2 separate regions of the Homo sapiens genome follow, and region 2 is linked to region 1. Evidence: fine-mapped expression QTL. A gene starts in region 1. The other region holds a variant in brackets. All regions are shown on one strand. Distances are between the middles of the regions.

Evidence for each region. PIP is the estimated chance that this variant, and not a neighbour inherited with it, causes the effect. A credible set is the group of variants that fine-mapping cannot tell apart.
Region 2: its variant is the best candidate, but not a certain one, in a credible set for the expression of SUGP1 in whole blood (TOPMed, PIP 0.51).

What each region holds. Positions count from the first base shown.
Region 1 is chr19:19,318,819-19,321,528 of GRCh38, reverse strand. It overlaps SUGP1 (SURP and G-patch domain containing 1), which reads left to right and starts at 1,020. Exons shown (of 14, transcript NM_172231.4): 1 at 1,020-1,066. The coding sequence starts at 1,033. It overlaps MAU2 (MAU2 sister chromatid cohesion factor), which reads right to left and starts at 700. Exons shown (of 19, transcript NM_015329.4): 1 at 394-700. The coding sequence starts at 669. RefSeq lists a silencer at 320-541 and enhancers at 1-884, 593-1,082, 1,103-1,152.
Region 2 is chr19:19,240,813-19,243,829 of GRCh38, reverse strand. All of the region lies in intron 12 of NCAN (neurocan), which reads right to left. Among named protein-coding and RNA genes, the nearest start is that of HAPLN4, 20 kb to the left of the region's middle. The variant T/C (reference allele first, on the strand shown) is at 1,214.

The DNA.
Region 1 (2,710 bases):
TGATGCTCCGGAAGCTGAACCAGGAGGAGCTAATAGCTTCAGGACCCTGTGATGTCCCCATCGCCACCAACAGGTGGGATCCTCCTGAAAACCAGACGATTTGCGGATCCTGTTGCTCCCAATAACAGGCAACTTTCAGAGTACGGTGACGGGGCTCCTGGAGCCCTGTCACCAGAAACGGGAAATAAGGCGTGGGGGGCGAGGCTTTCGTGTCCCTTGAGAGGCTGGTGGCTTTGGGGTCCGGCAGAGGCGGGTGGGGGTCCTGCGGCTTTGACGGAGGTCGCGCCCCCAGGTCGCCGAGGAGCGGCCCCCCACCCGCCGCGGTCGCGACCCGTCAGCCCAGATCTTGCAAGGAGCCCGCGACTCCTCCCTCGCGGCCCGGCCCGCGCTCACCGCCTTCTCCAGGTGGCTGCGCGCCTGCTCGCTGTTCTTGGTGTGGTGATAGAGAACGGAGCCCAGCTGCAGGTGTGTACGGGCCTCGATGCGCTGCGGCGGCTTGAAGGGGAACACGGCCTGCAGGCAGTGCACGCACAGGCGGATTTTGGGCGGGCTGGAAGTGCGGAAGTGCTCAGCGAAGCCCAGAAGCGCCAGGTACCACGAGTCGGCCGCCTCGGCCTGCGCAGCCTGGGCCGCCGCCGCCTGGGCCGCTGCCGCCGCCTGAGCCGCCATTTTGGCCTCCACAACAACAAGCCGCCGCCACAGGGAGGCGGAAGCAGGCGCGCGAGACGGGGCCGGGCTCTCCTCGCGGCTTCCGCGAGATCTGCCGCCCAAAGCATCCTGGAACATGTAGTTTGTATTTGGGATGACTGCCGCTCCGGGAAGGTGTAAAAGGGCGACGCCGTTTGGTTATCGTGACTGGGACTTAGGCATCGCTGATAGGCTGAGGCTTCCGTTTCTGGAGGTTAAAAAAAAAAAAACCCAGTCGTTCACGCAGTAATAGGGCGAGTCTGACCGAGGCGGACTACATCTCCCATCAGGCGATGCACACTATAACAGGGCCCCTTAAGGGGCGCCGGAGCATTGTGGGATTGGATGAGTCTCAAGATGGACAACCGGGATGTTGCAGGTAACAGCCCCCGCCTCCTCTCAGGCGGCCGCCTGGGTCCCTGGGGCTAGGTGTCTCCCCTGACTCCTCGGGTCCGTCCTGCTGCGACCCGTGGATCCCTCGCTTCAGCCCCGGGGCAGCCCACAGCGTCGGCTTCTGCACCTCTTGGTTTCTCGAGACCCCAGACCCAGGTTGCTGGCCGCCCCCGCTTGGTTTGCTGAGGACGCACGGATCTCCGTAGAGGCCGCCACCCGGCTCGGCCCTGCGTCCCGTTTCCGAAACAACCGCCTTCAGGGCTGCTCCAACCTCCGTTCCCCAATACGGCGACAACCTTGGGCTGTCCCTGCACCCCTCTTTTCGTCGCAGCTGGCCTCTGGCCTGTGTCCCGCTTTCTGGAAAAGCTGCTTTTCCGAAGTGCTTTGAGGCTCCCTTGACACACTTTCCCGCGTCTTTTGACCCTCACTTTGCTGCAAGCCTTGGCCTTTCTGCTTCCCCAGAATAGAATGCATTTACCCATCAGCAGATACTTAGGGCGTGCTCACTGTGTGCCAAGCAGTGTGCTGGGCGCTACGCATGCAGCGGTGACCGAAACAGGGCCCTGCCTTCCTGGAGGTTGCTTTCTACTGGGGTGTCAGTGCATTAATGAGAAAATATTTACAAAAACTTACGTATGATGTGAGGTTACGTATGATATGATCAGAGTGGAGGCTTCTGATATTGGGTAGTCAGGAAAGACCTTTTCTTTCTTTCTTTCTTTTTTTTTTTTTTTTTTTTTTTGAGACAGGGTCTCACTTTGTCGCCCAGGCTGTAGTGCAGTGGCTCACTGTGGCTCCCTGGGTTCAGGTGATCCTCCCACCTCAGCCTCCCTAGTAGCTGAGACCACAGATGCGCGCCACCACACAGCGAATTTGTGTGTTTTTTGTGTTGCCACGTTTCCCATGCAGGTCTGGAATTCCTAGGCTCAAGCGATCCTCCCATCTCAGCCTCTTAAAGTGCTGGGGTTACGTAAAGGTGTGAGCCACCACACCTGGCCCAGGGAAAGGCCTTTTCAAGCAGAGGACATTTGAGTTAAGACAATGAATGCCAGCTATGGGAATCCCTGGAGGGTGGAGCCTTCCACACAGAGGGGGGCCAGTAAATGCAGAGGCCCTGGTAGGATGGGCTTGTCCTTTTGAAGAATGTCAAGGATGAAGCAGAAGGGAGGGGAACCATCTGGCGGGGCCTTGAAAATGGCCTTTTAGAATTCTTTTTTTCTTTTTGTTGAAGCGGAGTTTCGCTCTGTCGCCCAGGCTGGAGTGCAGTGGCACGATGTCGGCTGACTGCAACCTCTACCTCCCGGGTTCAAGCCATTCTTCTGCCTCAGCCTCCTGAGTAGCTGGGATTACAGGCGCCGGCCACCGCACCTGGCCAGTGTTTTTGTGTATTTTTAGTAGAGACGGGGTATCACCATGTTGGCCAGGCTGGTCTCGATCTCCTGACCTCAAGTGATCTGCCTGCTTCAGCCTCCCAGGTGCTGGGATTACAGGTGTGAGTCACCATGCCCGGCTCAGACTTTTAAAATTTGGATTTTATTCTGAGTCCCATGGGGAACCTCTGAGGTGTCTTCCCTGTCTCCATACTATCACCCTAGTCTGAAGACATCATTGTCTGTTGCTTGGAGCCAGT
Region 2 (3,017 bases), 78 kb after region 1:
GGTCTTGAACTCCTGACCTCGCGATCCACCCACCTTGGCCTCCCAAAGTGCTGGGATTACAGGCGTGAGCCACCGCACCTGGCCAATTTTAACCATTTTTACGTGTGCAGTTTATTGTTATTTTTATTTTGTTGAGACAGAGTCTCTATTATCCAGGCTGGATTGCAGTGGTGCTACCTTGGCTCGCTGCAACCTCCGCCTCCCGGGTTCAAGAGGCGGTGTGCAGTTTAATGCACTAATTACATTCACAATGTTGCATAACCATCATTGTTATTTCCAGAACTTTTTCTTTTTCTTTTTTTTTTTTTTTTTTTGAGATGGAGTCTCTCTCTGTCGCCCAGGCTGGAGTGCAGTGGCATGATCTTGGCTCACTGCAACCTCCGCCTCCCAGGTTCAAGCGATTCTCCTGCCCCAACCTCCTGAGTAGCTGGGATTACACGTGCACGCCACCACGCCTGGCTAATTTTTGTATTTTTAGTAGACACAGGGTTTTACCATATTGGTCAGGCTGGTCTTGAACTCCTGACCTTGTGATCCATCCACCTCAGCCTCCCAAAGTGTTGGGATTACAGGCCTGAGCCACCCCGCACAGCCTATTTCCAGAACTTTTTCATCACAACACACCAAAATTCTGTACTCATTGAGCACTAGTGACTCCCCCTTCTCCCGACCCCAGCCCCTGGCAAACACTAATCTACTTCCTGTCTCTAAATTTGCCTACTCTGAATGCTTCATGAAAAAAAAAAATCATACAACAGCTGGCCTTCTATGCCTGGCTCATTCCACATTTTGTTTATTATTTTATTTTATTTTATTTTTGAGCCGGAGTCTCGCTCTGTCTCAATTTTTGAATTTTTTGTAGAGATGGGGTTTCGCCATGTTGCCCAGGCTGGTCTCAAACTCCACAACTCAAGCAATCCACCCACCTTGGCCTCCAAAAGTGCTGGGATTGCAGGCATGAACCACTGCACCTGGCCAACTTCTCCTTTATGGCCGAACAATATTCCATTGCATGGATGGACCACATTTTGTCTCTTCCTTCATCTGTTGATGGGTATTTTGGATGTTCCCACCTTGGCTATTGTGAATAGTGGGGCTGTGAACATTCATGTACAAGTTTTTGTTTGTTTGTTTGTTTTTTGAGACAGAGTCTCCCTCTGTCACCCAGGCTGGAGTGCAGTGACGCGATCTCGGCTCACTGCAACCTACGCCT[T/C]CCAGGTTCAAGCGATTCTCCTGCCTCAGCCTCGCAAGTAGCTGGGACTACAGGCATGTGCCATCACACCCAGCTATTTTTTTATTTTTAGTAGAGACAGGGTTTCACCATGTTGGCCAGGCTGGTCTTGAACTCCCGACCTCAGGTGATCCACTCGCCTCGACCTCCCAAAGTGCTGGGATTACAGGCGTGAGTCACCCACCACGCCTGGCCTGTTTTGTTTTGTTTGAGACAGGGTCTTGCTCTGTCACCCAGGCTGGAGTGCAGTGGTGCAATCATAGCTCACTGGAGCCTCAACCTCCTGGGCTCCAGCGATCCTCCTACTTTGGCCTCCCCAAAGTGCTGGGATTACAGGTGTGAGCTACCACACCCAGCCTCTTTTTCTTTCTTAGTACAATTTTTTGTTTGTTTGTGTTGTTTTGGAGATGGAGTCCTGCTCTGTTGCCCAGGCTGGAGTGAAATGGTGTGATCTTGGCTCACTGCAACCTCTGCCTCCCGGGTTCAAGTGATTCTCCTGCCTCAGCCTCCCAAGTAGCTGGGATTCCAGGTACATGCCACCACACCCAGCTAATTTTTGTATTTTTAGTAGAGATGGGGTTTCACCACATTGGCCAGGCTCTTCTGGAACTCCTGACCTCAAGTGATCTGCCTGCCTCGGCCTTCCAAAGTGCTGGGATCATAGGCGTGAGCCACTGTGCCCGGCCTCTGTGTATAAATTTAAAGGGTACAAGTGCAATTTTATTATATGCATATGCATATAATAAAATATATATCATCTAGTGGCAAAGTCTTGGCTTTTAGTGTATCCATGACCCGAATAATGTACATTTTTGTACCACTTTGAATCTCTGTTTTCAATTCTTCTGGGTATGTATCTAGTAGTAGAATCGCTGGGTCATGTGGTAACTCTATGTTTAACTTTTTATTTTTATTTTTATATTTTTAGAGACGGGGGTCTCACTGTGTTGCCCAGGCTGGATTCCAATTCCTAGGCTTAAGTGATCCTCCCGCCTCAGCTTCCCGATAGCTGAGACTACAGGCTCGTACCACTGTGCCCAGCTTCTATGTTTAACTGTGTGAGGAACCGCCAGATTTTTACACAGCGGGAGAAGGGGAATTTTTATCTTGAGAACAATGGAGAGTCTGGGAGGGCTTGAAGCAGGGAGGATGCTGAGCTAATATGTTTTTAGAGACAGGGTCTCGCTCTGTCACCCAGGCTGGAGTGCAGTGATGTGATCACAGGTCACTGCAGCCTTGAACTCCTGGGCTCAAGTGATCCTCCTCACTCAGTCTCCCAAAGTGCTGGGATTACAAGCATGGACCACCAGCCTGGCATATATATACTTTTTTTTTTTTTTGAGACAGGATCTCGTTCTATCATCACCCAGGCTGAAGTGCAGTGGAGTGATCTCGGCTCACTGCAACCTCCGCCTCACAGGTTCAAGCGATTCTCACGCCTCAGCCTCCTGAGTAGCTGGGATTAGAGGCGTGGGCCACCACACCCAGCTAATTTTTATATTTTTAGTAGAGACGGGGTTTCACCATGTTGGCCAGGCTAGTCTCAAGTGCCCACCTTGGCCTCCCAAAGTGCTGGGATTACAGGCATGAGCCATCATGCCCAGGCTAGAAATGAGAATATTTGAGAGACCATGGCTGGGGGACCAGGCAGAGTGAGTAGGGGAGGCATCAGACCCTAGTCTCAGGTTTGTAACCTCTGCAGCTTCGTGGGCGCGGTCTGTTTACTTGGGCTGGGGAAGTCAGGGGAGAAGGTTTAGCCTTCACTTGAAGCTCCTTTGCCAACTCC